4 separate regions of the Homo sapiens genome follow, and all the other regions are reported to be linked to region 3. The links are microRNA targets in miRTarBase. Many come from high-throughput screens and were not tested one by one. Region 3 holds a microRNA gene; each other region holds the end of a gene's coding sequence.

Evidence for each region. Region 3 holds the annotated microRNA hsa-miR-6870-5p (UGGGGGAGAUGGGGGUUGA, at 1,665-1,683, shown strand). A microRNA usually pairs through its seed, bases 2 to 8, with sites in the 3' UTR of a target mRNA and lowers its output. Matches are read on the target gene's strand: a 7mer-m8 pairs with bases 2 to 8, a 7mer-A1 pairs with bases 2 to 7 and ends in A, and an 8mer does both.
Region 1: miRTarBase lists ATXN7L3 as a target of hsa-miR-6870-5p. Seed matches in the 3' UTR shown: 7mer-m8 at 1,046-1,052, 7mer-m8 at 1,402-1,408 and 7mer-m8 at 2,539-2,545.
Region 2: the mRNA of POC1A is a reported target of hsa-miR-6870-5p. Seed matches in the 3' UTR shown: 7mer-m8 at 3,959-3,965.
Region 4: miRTarBase lists NKAPD1 as a target of hsa-miR-6870-5p. Seed matches in the 3' UTR shown: 7mer-A1 at 3,320-3,326.

The regions. Positions count from the first base shown.
Region 1 is chr17:44,189,943-44,194,555 of GRCh38, reverse strand. ATXN7L3 (ataxin 7 like 3) reads left to right here. Exons shown (of 13, transcript NM_001382309.1): 12 at 1-39; 13 at 145-2,751. The coding sequence ends at 293. TMUB2 (transmembrane and ubiquitin like domain containing 2) reads right to left here. Exons shown (of 4, transcript NM_001076674.3): 4 at 2,627-4,055. The coding sequence ends at 3,692. Among named protein-coding and RNA genes, the nearest start is that of TMUB2, 5.3 kb to the right of the region's middle.
Region 2 is chr3:52,071,610-52,076,063 of GRCh38, forward strand. POC1A (POC1 centriolar protein A) reads right to left here. Exons shown (of 11, transcript NM_015426.5): 11 at 3,617-4,376. The coding sequence ends at 4,278. Among named protein-coding and RNA genes, the nearest start is that of LINC00696, 8.7 kb to the left of the region's middle.
Region 3 is chr20:10,647,519-10,651,354 of GRCh38, reverse strand. It overlaps MIR6870 (microRNA 6870), which reads left to right and starts at 1,660; the gene lies at 1,660-1,719. It overlaps JAG1 (jagged canonical Notch ligand 1), which reads left to right. Exons shown (of 26, transcript NM_000214.3): 9 at 995-1,108; 10 at 1,720-1,833; 11 at 2,248-2,294; 12 at 2,633-2,806; 13 at 3,245-3,395. RefSeq lists silencers at 1-174, 3,639-3,688.
Region 4 is chr11:112,081,650-112,086,289 of GRCh38, forward strand. NKAPD1 (NKAP domain containing 1) reads left to right here. Exons shown (of 6, transcript NM_018195.4): 5 at 333-386; 6 at 816-3,501. The coding sequence ends at 1,323. TIMM8B (translocase of inner mitochondrial membrane 8 homolog B) reads right to left here. Exons shown (of 2, transcript NM_012459.4): 2 at 3,151-3,813. The coding sequence ends at 3,646. Among named protein-coding and RNA genes, the nearest start is that of TIMM8B, 2.8 kb to the right of the region's middle.

The DNA of each region.
Region 1 (4,613 bases), not on the chromosome of region 3:
GCTCCTCCAAGACGAGTGAAAATCAGGGATGGGGTCTAGGTACGTGATGCAGTTGGGCCCTAGGGGCTCTGTGCCCAAAGCCATGGGGGTGCCACCTCTCCTGCCATAACCATACTCTCATCCCTTGTGTCTCTTTCTCTACAGGTACCAACAGCTCTGAGTCACGGAAAACCAAGAAAAAGAAATCCCATCTGAGCCTGGTAGGGACTGCCTCCGGCCTAGGTTCCAACAAGAAGAAGAAGCCAAAGCCACCGGCACCCCCGACGCCCAGCATCTATGATGACATCAACTGACTTGGGTGCAAGGGATAGCCTTTGGCTGAGCAGAGCCCTCTCTCCTGACCCCCACCCAGGTGGCATAGCCTGGCAAATGGACGGCTGCTGGGGGTTGGGGCTTGGGAAGCTTGGTGGGCCAGGCAGGCAGAGGATCCGATTATGCGCCCCTGGGGGGTGTCAAAGTCCTCTGCAATGGAGCACGACTCCTCGGCGTGCAGGACTCAGACCTGGACATATTATGCCTTGGACATAAGTTTGGTGGGGAGGCGGTTTTCCTATTTATTCTGTGAGTTACTGGATGTCCAGCTAGGCCAGGGGCCTGACCTGGGCACTGTGCCAGGGCACTGCCTGCCCCCCACCCCAGGAACTGGACTAAGCCCTGCTGAGGGGCAATGTGGCGACCCGGGAGGCTGTGGGTTGGAAGCTGAGCCTGGAGGGGGCCTGCCTCGGCCGCCCTCAGCAATGTGAATGGGTCCGGTGCTTGGAGCTGAGGGGCAAGGCTGGGCATGTCCTGTCTGTGTGCAGAATCTTATCAAATGCCCCCAGTCCCAGGGGTAGGCAGGCACAGAGTGCTGTCTGCTGAGGTGGGCGTCCAGAACTGCCGCCACCTTCCCTGCCCCTCACAGGGGCAGCCCTTTCCCCTCAGTCCCCATGGGCCTCCTTGGCAGCAGGAGCTGTCCTTTTGTTGGGTGCCAGGAAAGGGCCTCCAGCCTCTACAGCTTCAAGGAATGGGAAAGGGAGGGTAGGAAGAGGGAGAAGTGTCAGAATTCCTCCCCCTGCCTCTCCTCCCTGACCCAGGGCTGGTGAGGAGTGGGGCCCCAAGGTGAGAGGGAACGGTGCTGCTTTATTTGAAATGTTTTCTTACCTCATTCCCTGCCCCAGGAAGGGACCCAGCCTCACCCTCCTGGGGTGGCCCCGTGTTCCTCCTGCCCACCCTGCCCCACTGCCCTACCGGGGCAGCCCAGGTTCCCAACTGCTGCTTCCACCCCCTTCACCTTGACTGGCTTCAGTTCCTCTCAGCGCTCCTGCCTCCAAAGCGTGCCCTGTTTCCCTTCCTTAGCGCTTTTAAGTTATTTATTCTGTACTTGTGGTTTGGGGCTCTGAGGAAAATCCTAATCTTGTGCCTCTCCCCCTTTGCTAGGAGTTGGGTGGGAAGAGAGGGTGGCCTCTGTGCCCCAGGTTGTCAGTGGAGGGGAAGGGGTGTCACTGCCCCTCTGTGGGACTGTCATGCCAGTGTGCCCACCTGCCTGGTCTACATCCTAAAGAGATGTACCGTCCCCCCTCCATGCGGGCACCACCACTCCCAGGAGCCAAGCTGGAGGACCGCGACCTGGGCTGGGAGCAGAGCTGACTGACATGGGTGGAGGTGACCCTGAGCCAAGTTCTCTGGCACTTGCTGGACATGTCCCCTACCCTCTTCCCAAGAGGAGCCATCCCACATTTGGGTAGTTAGTACCCAGGACTGGTTGGACTGATCGGGTTAGGGACCCTAGAGGGTTAAGGGAACAACAGAGATGGGGCTGCAATGCCCTGTCTGGAACTCCGCTCTCCCGCTGGGGTGGTTCTGATTGTGGCTCATGCCTGGTTGCAAATTGGTTTTTAACCCACAAATTGTGATTATTTTTTAAAAAGCCAAACAGATTTTGGCAGGAGTTAGAATAAATCCCGGGGCCTGGGCTTCTCTATTCTTGGCCCTCCGTAGTCTCCCTCCGAGAGGAGGCCAGAGGGAGAGGAGGATCTCAGCAGGCCTCTAGCCGCTTCCAGATGCAGTCTGGGGAGTGGGCTGAAGGTGAAGGGAGGAAGGCTGTGGGCCACTCTCCCTTCTGAGAGGCAGCTGCAGCTCAGGCCCTAATACACTCTTTGCCCTGTGGCCTCTCCCTTTTCCCCCCTTCTGGTTGGAGGAGGGAGAAGTGGGAAGTAGCTTGGGAACTGGTTTGTCCACATAAACTTCCCCATTGTTCCTTGGCCCGCCCTCAGGGCAGAGCCCCCTGCCCAGGCTGGGTAAGAGATGGGCTTGGTCCAGCAGGGACCCTGAGGGAACAAACCCTTTTCCTTCTGGGGAGAGAGTGCCCCCCCTACCATGTAGTTGAACAGGGGCTAGGAGCTCCCCACTCCCCTCCCTCTAACAGCAGGCTGTGTGGGTTTCAATTCCCATCCTTCCCACCCCGGCTAGGTGTCGTCCACCCTGTATCCTGTGTCTGAGTGTGTGTGGGGGGGTTCTGTACTAATTTCCATGGCCGGTGGCTTTTCCTTCCATGCATCACTCCCCCCCGCATGCCCAGGGGCCACCCGCCTGGCATTACCGCATGCTGGGGTCATTGGGGGAGGGGGGTGGGGCTCACGCTGTCCTGTGGTCTTGAGATTTTTATTTTTGCATATGTAATCCATTCTGTACAGGTAGCTAACTTTGTAAACGCTGTGTATTCCCTCTGCCCCCATGGCTGCTGGTGTAAATAAACTGCATCTCCCGTTGGTAGCCCCGGCCTACCTACTCTCATTACCATTTTCCTGGGGGCAGCGCAAAGCCATTCTCTGTCACAGAAAGAGGCTGCAGGACCACAAAATGGAACTTTATTCAGTCACAGACACTGACCCTCCAATAGCCCCAGAAGCAAGAGCCTAGGGCCCAGCAATCCATACCCAGTCCTTGGAGTTGGGCAGGGTAGGACGCTGGCCAAGGGCCAGTGCTGTCTCTTGCTTACAGCCTGAGGACTACGGGAGCAGCAGCTGTGGCCTGGCCGCTCCCAATGCTGGGGGCTTGGCTTGGTGCCCCATCCCCTTCCTGACTGAGCTCTATGAAGGACTCTTAAAAAAATAAAATAAAATGCAAGCAAAGTGCTTTGAAAGAAGGGAGGACACCCTATTCCTGCTAAGGGGTAGAGGAAGAAGGTGAAGGCGGCTAGGTGCCCATAAGAGAAGGCTGGCACAATCTTCATTCCCGCCAGTGTGATTTCAGTCTCAAAAGATGAGTATTTGGCTGAGAAATGGAAGGATACTCCAGGCTCCCTACGGAGTTGTGCTGGGGCCATGCTGAGCTGCCCTTGCAGGCAGCCCTGGGTGCTGGGGGCAGACATGCAGGACACTGGGAAGAGTCAGAACCACAGGTGGGAGGGAATCTCAGAGCCCAGGCTCCCCACTGAGCTTGGCCAGCAGCTTTGAACTCCTTCAGAGGACCCTAAAAGTGAAGGAAGATGACATCCTCATTTCTACCTGAGTTGTGCTCGCACGGGAGGGACATCTGTACTCCTGTGGATGAGAAGGGGAGGCCGCATACTTGCCTCCTGTGTCCTATGGAGGAGATTTCCATCACATCCTTTCCACCCCTCCCTCCCCGGCCCTTGGGCCCAGCTCTGGCCAGGAAAAGTGGGGAGGCCGTAAAGGAGAAAGACCATGCCTTTCATTTTCTTCCTATGTCCTTATCGTCCATACATCCCAAATACTAGGAAGCTGAAGAAGACGGTGACTCCCACCAGGGAGACAGTGGCAGGTGCTGTGAAGAATTGGCGGTAATTGATTCGGAAGTACCAGACCACACCCAACAGCACCACAAAGACAGGCACCATGAGGCTGCCCACATTGACACCAAGGCTGGGTGGCTCAGTGGCCGAGGGGGCCAAGGAGGCTGAGGGGCCTGGAACAGCTGACCCTGGGGGTGAGCGGTGGCAGTGAATCACACAGTTGTCGGTAATGTTCAGAGAACGCAGTGTGCGGGCTGGGTCTTGTAGCAGGCGGCCCTGGTAGATCAGTTTCATCTGGCTTTCTTGTCCAGGGAAGTATTTGCTGTAAGGATGAAAGACATGGAAGAAAAGATAGAGGGTGAGGAATGAGAAGGCAAACAGGCCTGGACCAACAAAGCAGGGGAGTGGGGAAAAACTGGAGGGTGGATTTTTTTTTCCCTCATCTTTATCCTTTTTTTTTTTTTTTTTTTTTTGAGACGGAGTCTCACTCTGTTGCCAGGCTGGAGTGCAGTGGCGCGATCTCGGCTCACTGCAACCTCTGCCTCCCGGGTTCAAGCAATTCTCCTGCCTCACCCTCCCGAGTAGCTGGGACTACAGGAGTGCGCCACCATGCCCAGCTAATTTTTGTATTTTTTTTTTTAGTAGAGACAGGGTTTCACCATGCTGGCCAGGATGGTCTTGATATCTTGACCTTGTGATCTGCCCGCCTTGGCCTCCCAAAGTGCTGGGATTACAGGCGTGAGCCACCGCGACAGGCCCCCCTCATCTTTATCCTTAACTAATGAGGGGTGTATTTGTTTGTTTTGTTTTTTTAGATGGAGTCTCACTCTGTCGCCCAGGCTGGAGTGCAGTGGCGCAATCTCGGCTCACTGCAACCTCC
Region 2 (4,454 bases), not on the chromosome of region 3:
CTCCCCAGAGGTGGCCTTAGTGACAGCAGAAGAGATAGCCTTAGAGTGCTTGCCTTCTCGGGTGGGGAGGGGCCCAATCCCTTCTCACCACCGGGGACACCCATGGCAGGGGCCATGGGATCAGGAGATGAGAACTCTAGCTGCCTAACATTACAAAGCCAGAGGGACCCTGGGACCACGAGCCCCCCCACCATCCCCACTGGCACATGGGGCCAAGTTTCAGGGAAGGGGCCTGACTCGCCAGGCCAGTGGTGGGATAACACCAATGGTCACACACTAACCGCACTTAACTTGCACCAGCCACTGTAGTGAGTGCCCAATGACACAAGCACTATTGTATAGAGGCCCAAAAAGGTCACAGAACTAGTCGGAGAGAGCGAGGGTTTGGACCTGGGCCATGGGTTGGGGGCCTCCTGACCTCACCACTTTGCCCTTGCCCCACAGAGCACCCCCCCGCCCACCCACCACTGAGAAGTCATGATGCTGTGGCAATCAAATCACAGGACAGAAGGCCAAGGACTGTGCTGGGTGGCAGGATGGCAGAGTTCCCACAGCAGGCTGGCATGTGCTACCTGAGTCTCTGAAGTGGGTGACTAGGTGGCCACAAGCCTGTGGCAACCCCTCGACACAGCCTGTCAGGCGCTCCCAGGGTGTGGTGACTTGGGTGAGAGGCGGAAAGCCTTGCCACAGGCCGGGGCTGGACTTGATGGCTTCTACCTGCAAGCTGCCTGCCTTGGTCATCTCAGCCACCTCTCAGCTTCTCCAGCAGGAAGTGCAGGTTTATCCCAGGAACCCACAGAAACTGGACAATGGTAGGCAGCAGGCTGCAGTTTAAATCACAGACATCTATTCTTTTATTTCACATTGGGAAAATTAGGGCATGAAGGCGCTGGGGAGGCAAACGATGGGGAATTGCTGCTGATATGCACTTACTGACAAAAATGCTAAACTAACTTCATCTTCCTAACACAAAAGAGATTCCTGCAATTTGGTTTCTGAGAGCTCAGTTACCAAATCCAAAATTAGGAGAGATGACGGCTGAGCCGAGCCATTTGCATTTCCAGAAGGGCTGCTTTTGTGCTTGGCAGCAAGAGTGGGGGATCAGTAGCAGCCCCAGCTACAGGGAGCCATCGGGTAGGGCTGGCAGAGCGTCGCTTAGGGAGATTCTGCAAGAAAGCTCCATCATGTGGCCCCCACACCTCGCCAAGCCACCTCAAGCCCACCCAGGCCCCACACTCCTTGCTGCCTGTGAGGGCCCTACACTCCCAGGCAGTGTGGTGTGTAGCTCAGGGGGCCTGCAGCATCTCCACGGGGAGGGGGTGAGGGTACAGAACTGAGGCTAGAGGGACAATGCCCACAGCAGTCACAGCTGCCTAGGACCCCGTTTCCCTCCCACCAGATTCTCACTCAGAGCAGTGAGGTCCTGAGTCAAGCCTCGCATGAGCAAGAAAAGGAACTCAAGAAGAACTCAGGCCCCAGGTGAGAGCCTTGGCACCCACCCCACCCCCAGCTCTGCCCTCAGCATGGTGATACACATTGACCCCCTGGCTTGGTGGAGGCAGTCTCTGTCCTGTTTTGTTTTTGTTGTTTGTTTTTGAGACGGAGATTTGCTCTGTCCCCCAGGCTGGAGTGCAGTGGCATGATCTCGGCTCACTGCAACCTCCGCCTCCTGGGTTCAAGCAATTCTCCTGCCTCAGCCTTCTGAGTAGCTGGGATTACAGGCGTGAGCCACCATGCCCGGCTAATTTTTGTATTTTTAGTAGAGACGGGGTTTCTCCATGTTGGCCAGGCTGGTCTTGAACTCCTGGCCTCAAGTGATCCTCCCGCCTCGGCCTCCCAAAGTGCTGGGATTACAGGCGTGAGCCACCGCACCTGGCCTGTGCTGTTTTAAAGAGCAGCATTCCAAGAAGAACATCCTGCCTACAAATTCCAGGTCTGGCTGGTGGCTCCATCAAGGGAGGGGTGTGGGCGTGGACACCCAGACCACTCTAGCAGAGCCCTCTGACAGTCCATGGGGCTTGAGCGTGGGCCTATCCAAGCTTGGCGCTGGCGCTGGCTCTGGCCTGTCTCTATCTGGACAGCCCACGTCAGGCTGTCCCAGGACACGCCGATATCATACTACAAGAAGTGTGTGGGAGTGAGTCCTTCCTCCTGACCCCTTACATCTAGTAACCAGTGGAGCTTCCACTGGCAGTCAACAATCAGGGACAAATACCACACCACTACCCCTAAGACCACCTCCTGCAACTCCACATGTCCTCCAGCAGAGAAAGGTGGATTTCATAGAGATTCCAAACTCGATCCTGGTGTAAACTGAAGACAGGGGTGATGGCAACCTCGGTCTGGCCTGAGAGCAAGACCTGCCACACAACGCCTTGGAGACCCTGCACATGTCCTGCTGCCCCCAGAGGGGCCGTCATCTGTCTCTGGAGATGACCTTGCCCTGGGCTGGTTGCTCAAATCATCAGAATCTCCACCCATGGTAGGTCCAAGCCCAGGTCCGGAAGCCACAACAGGCAGCCCAGTGCTGGTCTGGTGGCAGGAGGGCTGGCATGGGAGGGAACCGACACGGCTGGCCCCATAAGTTGCACCTCCTCTTAGCAGGCTGACCTGCAGTTGCCCAGACTCTACTTCAAAGCCTCCTGAGGTAGCCAAGAGACTTACCTGCCAGCATGGACCAGCAGGCCTGCCAGGCTCGTCCACACACCGGCAGGGCCACGTGGGAAAAGTGCGGCAGGTCCCAGCAGCTGCCAGAGCACCCTGAGCCCGCAGCTTCTTCCCATCGACAGTGCAGGGGGAGGATGGTGTTGAGAGCAGACCCTGTAGATCCAGTGGGACTGGTGGGGATGGGGAGTCCCACTGGGGGACTGATGGGGGATGGGCTTCTCTTGAGCACCTGCTCTGCACTGAGCACAGTGCATTGCTTACCTTGTCACCAGAGGAGGGTATCACAACCACTTCACACAATAAGAACCCAAGATTCAGAGAGGTTAGGTCACAATGTTGAGGTCACACAGCTGGCAACAGGCAGCTCCCTCCCCACCCAGTGTAGGCCAGAGAAAGCGTCCCGTCATCAGGACTCAACACAGCTGCCCTCTAGTCAGTCCAGGCTCTGAGGCATGCAGGCTCTGCTTCCACCTGGAGGCTGCAGAGGCTGTGAACCCACTGACCACGTGGTACTGACAGCTCCTGGGACGATCTAACACCACCTCCCATTCCCCAGGGCAGGGCAGGTGTGTTTGAGGATAAAGACCTCCTTGGCTGGCTGAGCCCCAAGAAGCTGAAGACGGAAGGCACGGGCGACACACAGACACAGGGAAAACATTTGTCCTGGCTTCCCCAGCACAGGGGCAGAGGGAGGACCCTATGGAAGCCCTCAGGAGCAAATGGAAACTTGGGTGCCTGAGGCCTCTGAGTCCCAACAGAAGCAGTCAGTGGGGGCCAGCCAGAGGGAGGTGGGTGCATGCAAGGGCTCTGACTGCCCTTGTTCCCCGACACCCTGAACAGCTGCAAACAGGGGGGTCCTGGCCTCAGAGGCAATCCTGGCAGAGGCCGTCCCAAGTCACCATTCTCATTCTGTTTGGGCCCTGGGGATGGGAAGATTGATTAAGTGTCATCCAGCATAAGCCACTCCTGCAACAAGTGCAATGAAGTCAGGTTTAATTTTGAGATTCCTGTGCCCTCACTCACGCAAGGAGGAAGTCACCTGGCTCCAGTGAACACGTGTGGAACAGAAATCAGGGCCACTGAAAAGCCACCACCCACTTGAGAGGGCTTGTTCTCAACAAACCTGACTCAGATGGGCCCACTTTGGGCCTTTAGTCAGATTTAGAGAAAACCCCCGGCTCATCCAATCAATGTGCAATCAATTTCTACACCATGGCAGAGGTAGGAAAAGCCAGTCACATGTCCAAATGATGAGTGAAAATCAAGGCATCGTGGAGCCACCTCCTCCAGAGGGGGAGCCACAATCTCAGGACCCCGAAGGAGCAGACATTTTCAAGTGGCTCCTTTACATTAAGCAAAATGTGGTCCTCTCATTCGGGTCTGAAGCATCATTTGTGTGTGAGCCCGGCCCACTGGGGACCTCTGGCTGCCAGGTGGAGAGCCTCCTGGTGCAGATAGCAAGGTGGAGGGCAGAACTGCAAAAATCCAGGGCTCCAGTATGGATGTGATTCCCACAGAGTTCAGTCCCCTTTATTTACCCAAGTCCCATGGTACAAATCCCTGGCCTGCCACCTGCAAATCCACCGAGCTCCTGATTCCTGCTCCCCTGATCATGGTGTTGCTCTCTGCATGATTAGCTGCTGGTTCTCCAGACACTGCTTCAGCTTGTCTTCTGTCAGTGTCAACCGCTGCTCCAGAATGGAGACTGTCTGCAAAATAAACAGTGGTTGGGTCAGAACACAGAAGGGCCGCCAGGCTGCTCTAGGGACCCCCTTGGCCAGTCCCCA
Region 3 (3,836 bases):
CTCGTGGAATCGCTTGTTCCTTTGCATCTGCTTCCTGGAGCTGGCCACCTTCCAATTGTGGTTATTCTTCTTGCAGCCATGGAGAGGCTGCCTTCAGGGGAGGTTGTCACTTACTACTGGATTCTGTCATAGGGCCAGGGGGCCCCAGAGAAGAACCTGGCCTGCAGAGTTCCTTTGGCTGTGAGACAGGGCTGTATATCAGAATCACCTGGGCTGCTTTACAGTGTAAATCTCTGGGTCCCCCAGATTCCCTCCAGAATCGGGGAGTCCATGGTCTTTGATAAACTTCTGGAATTCTGCAGTGCAGCCAGGTCTGAGAACCGCTGTCATCAGCACCCCAGGTGTGGTTATGGATGTGGATTTCTGGGGTCAGATTGCCTGTGCTGGTCCTAGGCCCCCACCTGTCACTTGCGGAACTCCAGCAGGCCACAGAAGCTCCCCGGGCCCTCTTTAAATGGCACAGTAGCAATTCCCATCTCCGAGGTTGTCATAAAGACACAAAAGTGAATACTTCATAAATTGTTAGGAGTTGTCTCTGGTCAGAGCAGAAGTGGAGAATGCAGCCTCTAGGTGTGCTATTTTGGGCAAACTCTGTAAGCAAATGAGAGGAATAAGGTTTTCCACCTGTAAAGAACTATTTTTCCTGACTTCTTAGCTACTTCTGAGCCATGATGAAACTTTTCTTTAAAAATAAAGATTAGGCAGATAGAGATGTCCTGTGTTCCTCCTGGGCGGATGCTCCGTCAGTATCCAGCTGTCTTTCTCCCCCACTGCTTAGGTTGGGGATTACATGAACTGGGGCAGTGGGGGATTTAAAGCTAAAATCAAGGCTTCGGCCTTATCGTCACCGTCCCACTTGTCCTGCTGTAGCTTTCCTTGTAGCAGGTGTCTGGCTCTTCAATGACAGCCCCTCATGTAAGAGGTGATGTTAAAGGATCTAATTGTCAGATGGATTGAATTAAATTGTCAACCCCCTCCTTTTCTTGTTGACCAGACATTGATGACTGTTCTCCTAATAACTGTTCCCACGGGGGCACCTGCCAGGACCTGGTTAACGGATTTAAGTGTGTGTGCCCCCCACAGTGGACTGGGAAAACGTGCCAGTTAGGTAAGAACATCCCTGTGACTGTAATTTTTATACCAAGGTTGGCTTTGATTGTCAAAGCCATTACAGAAGACGAGCGTGTGGCCGGCAGTGTGAGTTCACACTCCATCATGCTAAGAAGTAATTTATTATCAAGAGTCTAGCAGGCCTGGGAGAAATAACTTGAATGCAAATGGACTAGCTCTTTTAGGCCCTGTGGGAAAGTCGTGGGATTCCTTGAACCATGTCAATCGTCTGTCCGAGGAGTGTTCAGCTGGGTTCCAAAAGGGGATGATCTCATGAGGAATGAGCTGTCTGCATTCTTTTTGCCACATTTAAATCCCAGCAACTAGGCTGCCTGGGTTTTGCACAGAAATGCCTGGTGGCTTTCTGCTGTTTTGTTGGGGGCTGGTTAACTAGCAGCTGGAAAGTTATCAATTAGGGTTCTTATTGGATAATAGCTAGGGAGAGGGATCAGATGCTTAAAATAGAGGGAACCTCTAGTATCTTTTATTTAGCTAGCTTATTAAAATGTCTCATGTCTCAGACAAACTCTGGCCTGTTCTTTTTTTTTCCAAGGTGGGGGAGATGGGGGTTGAACTTCATTTCTCATGCTCATCCCCATCTCCTTTCAGATGCAAATGAATGTGAGGCCAAACCTTGTGTAAACGCCAAATCCTGTAAGAATCTCATTGCCAGCTACTACTGCGACTGTCTTCCCGGCTGGATGGGTCAGAATTGTGACATAAGTGAGTGACTTTGTTTCCATTTTGATTTTCATGAAACTTGGGTAGCCGACTTGCTGGTCCGTACTGGGGCTCCAGTCCTAGGACTTGAGCAGTAGAAGGAAAACCTTAGAGTGGGAATGGTTTTTTGAGAGGGAGTGGTCAGGGCAGCAGTGAAAACATACACTTTATCAGGCTCATTAGCTGCGAAAACCAGCCATATTCTGATAATGTGGCTGAAACAATGATGTGAAGTTTCACTCCCTCATTCTGGAAGAATTAGGGAGGGTCCCCACCCAGCGTAATAACCTTATCTCACGGAAAGCACACAGGAAATCTGATTTGAAACTTATCTATCCTGAGCTGAGAAGGCTTTTCAATTAAGCCCAATTTCACTGTAAATTACCTCTTTAAAATGATGACTTATTTATTTTTTAGATATTAATGACTGCCTTGGCCAGTGTCAGAATGACGCCTCCTGTCGGGTATGTAAATCTTTGCTTAAATCAAAACTTTGACAATTGACAACAAATCTTTAGATTTGTGCGACACTAGGAGAGCTCTGTCCCTGTGAGATTTAAAAATTTGGGTGAAAAAAGAGTCTCTTGGAAGTTTCGCTAGGGCTTATGTTACCCCAGCCTCGTGGGAGTCATTTTGAAGGCATGCACATAGAAATTCCTCTAACCACTTTCAGAGGTTTAGCATTTGGCTATTTCAGTGAACCAGCTAAACCGCAACAGTCATGCTAAACCGCTGAAGCCCTGTGTTTGTGGAATACATAGAAAAAAAGCATGTGTCTCTCTCTCCCCTTCTCCTCTTCTAGGATTTGGTTAATGGTTATCGCTGTATCTGTCCACCTGGCTATGCAGGCGATCACTGTGAGAGAGACATCGATGAATGTGCCAGCAACCCCTGTTTGAATGGGGGTCACTGTCAGAATGAAATCAACAGATTCCAGTGTCTGTGTCCCACTGGTTTCTCTGGAAACCTCTGTCAGGTGAGTGGTGGCAAAACCTCAGATGGCCAAGTTTTTAGAGCAGAGCCGCTGCCTCCTCCGCTTCCCTTTACTTTTCCCTCAGCTCTTGTGTCTGGAATTTCCTAACATCTATTAACATCCTATTGATGAGAGAGTCTCTGCTAGACAAATGCTGGTGGAAGGAGATACTGACGAATTATTTTCTTCTTAGTGTCTTCGTCTTTGTGTTCTTTTTGGTTCCCTCCACCCCCTCTTGTGCTCCCTCTCCCACTCTGCCCCGTTGTTTCAAATACTGGACATTGGCAGTCCCTACAGCATAGAGATGTATCTTACAGGGTGTCTCCTAATAGAAACCGAAGGAACTGTCAGATTCCAGTGCCTGCTGCCCCAGAGAAGTTATCGTGACACCTTTGTTTTACTCTGATCCCTCCCCCTTTTCGCTGTTCCTGATATTTGCAGCTGGACATCGATTATTGTGAGCCTAATCCCTGCCAGAACGGTGCCCAGTGCTACAACCGTGCCAGTGACTATTTCTGCAAGTGCCCCGAGGACTATGAGGGCAAGAACTGCTCACACCTGAAAGACCACTGCCGCACGACCCCCTGTGAAGGTACCTCCCTTCTCCCGGGACCTGGCTGTCTCCAGACTTGCTCCTTTTGTCCCCACTTACTACCACTGCCCCTTGTTACACTTGAGAAGTAATGTATTGGTGAGGAGGACCTCTATAGTGAAATGATCCTGCCTGTGTAGCGGGCCGCAACACGTGGAAACAATCTATTCCGGCCTGCCAGTGGGAGAGCCGTGTCTACAAGTAGCCCAGGGGAGAGAATGTGAAATCCATTTAGCATTCCTGTTCTGGGGTGGGCTGATGTGCAACGCTGAGGCAAATGCCTGAGAACAACACTGTCAACAGAACTTCCTGCAACGGCAGACAGAGGGGGATGTTCTGTATCTGCACGGTCAGGTATGGGAGCCCCAGGCCATGTGGACTGTGACTAGTGTAACTAGAAACTGATTTTATTTCATTTTAGTTCATTTAAATGTAAATAGC
Region 4 (4,640 bases), not on the chromosome of region 3:
GTCCCCATGTAGACAGCATGATATTATGAAGTGTTTTTGGAAAAGTGCTTCATAGCTAAAGAGCAGAGTGTAAGAGTTCGTTAGTGTTTCTTAAGGAAAGCAATGGCAAGTTCTCTTACAAATGGACAAAATAATCTTGTATGTCTGAAGTGATAGTGTACAGTACAGGAAATGTAGCTGTTACTGAGCTATAATGGGGGCTTGGTTCTACCATATCTCTACTTTGTGTTTATGTTTGTGTATGCATGTACTCCAAAGTCTTTCTAATGTTGCTTTAATTTCCAAAAATGTATGCATTGCTTTAACAATACATGTGATGTGTCATATTACAGATGGGGTCACAGTGGTTATAAAGAGTTATACCCTGAAGAATTTGAAACAGACAGGTAAGGAAAATAGGCTTACTGAAAGAAACTAAGATGGTACAAAATCTGTATTATAAATTGATTTCTTAACTTTTACGAAGAATATACTTGCCATCAAAAATGTAGCTAGAGAAACAATAGGTGATTTAGTTAGGAGGTGATCCCTGTTTTCCCATTCTCTGGTTGATGTTTGGCATGTCTGTAAGCATTTTGGTTTTTATATATAGTATTCCATACAGTAACTCAGTATGGCAGCTTAGAATTTTTACCTTCATTTTAAAGATGAGGAAACAAAAACTCAATGAGAATATTAAAGTGTTAAAGTATACATTAAAGTGCTTATTTAAAATTCAGATGTTAACCTCAATTTTTTAATCTAGAATGCAAAATATTAAAATAATACGCTTTTTTTTTACATAAAAGCTTCTATTTTTTAACTTTTCTTATTAGTAGTGATCAGCAAGATATTACCAACGGGAAGAAAACATCTCCCCAGGTAAAGTCATCTACCCATGAATCCCGCAAACACAAGAAGTCAAAGAAATCCCACAAAAAAAAGCAGAAAAAAAGGTCACACAAAAAACAGAAGAAAAGCAAAAAGGAAGCCACAGATATAACAGCAGATTCCTCGAGTGAGTTCTCAGAAGAAACTGGGGCTTCTGGTACAAGGAAAGGGAAACAACCACATAAACGCAAGAAAAAATCCAGGAAAAAGTCTCTCAAAAAACCTGCTTTATTCTTAGAGGCAGAAAGTAACACTTCACATTCAGATGATTCAGCATCCAGCAGTTCTGAGGAAAGTGAGGAAAGAGACACTAAGAAAACCAAAAGGAAAAAGAGAGAGAAAAAAGCCCATACCTCTGTAGCCAACAATGAAATACAGGAGAGGACAAACAAACGCACAAATTGGAAAGTAGCTACAGATGAAAGGTCTGCTGAGAGCTCAGAGGATGACTAAATGGGAAACACTTTTGTTTTCCACATGACTGTGGATATTTACAGTTCTTACTCCTTGTGGTTTTGCCAGTGACTCTTGTTCAGCACGGGGCCTGAGGTCAGAGCTGTCTTGTGCCATCTGTATGTTCTGACAGACGTCTTGTCTTCTATTTTGGCGTTAAGCTTGATCCCCTTTTCTTGTTAAAAGGGAATCTGGTATTTTGTTATGAAGGTTTCTTGAAGAGATTATTTTTTTTTGCAATTAATTACGTTTAGTGTAGAGTGCATATACAGCAAATTAAAGGACCCAGAAAGCTGGATCCAATAGTGACCTGGGTACACCAATCGGAATATTGAATTTGGGGAAGTCAAGGGCTGGGATCAAGAGGTGGATTGGAACTAATGCCATGTAGGATGGTATGACAAGGCAACACTGTATTGCTCTCTGTTTATATAGCAGGTGTCACAACTAACTTGTCTTTAGCCTTGGTGCTTTGATCCTTCTATATTTTGACCCCACAGGTGTGGTCCGGTTTACTTAATCAGGACATGGGCCTAAGAACAAACCTTTTCCCTTCATGATAACATCCATAGACAACTTATTAGAAGGGACTAGAGTTTTTGCAAATTTCCCTGCTGGATGGGGCCTATAGCTATACTTAGTATATGCCTAAACATGGTAATTGGATAGTAAATGGTTTTCTAGTTCCATTGCTGTATATTTGCCTAAATGGACTTGTGTTCAAATTATTTCTTCAATTGTCATAGATAATCCTGTACCAAATGGGGAAGAATTAGGAAATAATCATGTTGTCTAATGGTACTCTGGATTCAGGGCAGCAACTGCCATTTAAATGTTGTCTTGTTCATTTCTAAATCTGTTCATGAAGTTTAGGTTTTCCCTGAAACTAAGTTGAATTATTTCCAAAATGAAACAGGCTTCTCAGGGACATATCCACTTCTTCCCAGTCTGCCTTTGGATTAAAGCACCAAGCAGAGACCACATTAATTCCCTTTGCTATACTGTGATCCTTAGTATGTTAATTCTTAAGAAACCAACATATCACTGAAAGAAGGCTGGCAGAACGCAAGTGCATTTTTTCACTGTGGGAAGAAAGATCAAGTGACGTATTATTTTTTCCTGGTTGTCACTTAATGGGCTGAGTAAAAAGCTTGAAAACTCAGACTTTCGGTCTTGGTTCTGCCACTCATTGGTTATGAGGAGGCCCAGAGCAGGTAAGTTCACCTTCCTGGCCTTACTTTCCTGATGTGTAATACGGAATTACTTCACAGTAGCATGACAGTATAAGACACCAGCAGTAGATACAACTATGATGACATTCCATGAGTTGGTATTTTTAGTTCTAACTGCTAAATTTGTTCTCTTTACGGGACAGATTTCTAATAAAGTGCTTGGTCTTAAAATACATGGTTGGACAGAGGTGCCCTATCCCTTAACTATGAGCAGGTGCTACCTTTTGGGATATTTATTTTAAATTTTAATACTTTGGTACTCAATTGTCAGTGTTCCATGGTGTGTATTTTTATTTTTGGGATTAGTGGGGGTCTAAAGGGAGAAGAATAGTCTCTAATTACTACCTCTTAACCTAAAGCAATTATTTTGTTCCTGGAGCAAGTTAAATCTTTGTTGGAAGGAGCTTTGGCCATATATTTTTTAGCATGCATTGTTTCTGTGCCCTGAAAGTACCTGAAAGGTTTTAAGCACAGACTCAGGAAAATGTGCCAGTAGAACAGGCCATCTCCAGGAAATTGGCTCTATTTGGGTCCTGACCTTCCCTTCCTCCCAAGTTAGCAGGCTTGTTCTTTCGCAAGGAATACACATCTTGCCTTTTTTTTTTTTTTTTTGCCATGTTTTCCTTTTCTTGGTCATGTATAAGCAATAAAGCTGTTTTTTGTTCTTCATCTTTCTTAACCCCAAATTTTCTTCTATGCCTTAGGCTTCGATGGTTCTTCCAACCCCCTTAATATGGCTTAGGGTGGTTTTTCAAAACCTACAATCCCCCATTTGCACTACTGGCCATGGAACATTTATTTCTAGTGTTCCTGCCAATCAGAGATCTCTATATTAAATTCTAAAATGGGATTAAAAGAAGAGTTGGAGAATTCACACTTATTGAGTAACTGATGTCATACAACCTGGAATTTCTGAATTCCAAATAAATAAATTTCACTCTTTGAACATTTCATCTTTTACTTTTTAGCACCAACAGACTTGATAACAGCCTGATGCTGATCTGACAATGGGTTGATAGCCTTCCCCCACTGACCCTTAAATCTGCTTAGTAACAAGTCCTTTGCTTCTGTCATTCTCCTGGGGGATGGCCTACTGCCCTCCTTTCTGTACAATCTGGGCAAACCGACTGGTGATGGCAAGAGTGGTGTCAATGAAGCGGTCTACACAGCTGGAGAGACAATTTTCAGTGCGAGAGTCTAGGCGATTCCCTGGCTTCTCCACACATTTATCCCAACATAACTCCATGAAGTGATGCACCTAAAAGGAAAGAAAAATAGTAACCATTGGGGTCTGCAGATAGGCCTAACTCTTGTTTATTAACTTCTCACTTTTTGACACCTGACAAAACCATTCTTTAAATCAACCACGGAGTCACTTTGGGCTCTTCTCTTTCTTCATTTCCTAATTAGTCACCAATATTGATCCAGATCCTCGTCCCTACAGATTGTACATTCTCAGGTAGGACTAATAACCTTTTATATTCCCCAAAGTAGCTAGCACCATTGTGAACCAACTAGGGAACCAATTAATTTTCCCAAACTATTGCACTCATTTTATTCCAAACCTATCCCCTAGACAAGGTAATTCTTCCATTAACCTTTTGGGGGTTATGGATCCACTCCCCAGAAAAATGCACATACAGGCACAGAAATTATGTGCACTGTCATTAGAATGTTCAGGGCCCAAAGATTTCTAGCCAGGGTTCTTGCTGGTCATCCGAGCACCCTCTTCCTCCCACCCAAAAGGAAAAAACCATTTTACCAAGAGCTTACTATTTGTGAGGCTGGGTACTAAGAAATCAGTTCTCTCTAAGGTCCTCAAGGATAGCTGTCATCACCTCCCATTTAAGAGGCGTGATTATGTAGTCCAAGGTCATGTAGCCAGCAAGAAGTCAGGCCGCGTTAGAACCATGTCCGAAGGGCTCCAAACCCTTGTTCTACATCCATAGTCTACAGCGACTACTTCAGAGTCCACCTTCCTCCGATAATGTTCTAGTCGTTTTCAAATACATTGTCGCATATGATCCTCACAATCCAGTGAGGCAGTGGGGTGACGGCGACACCAAAACCCACAGTGGATGAGTA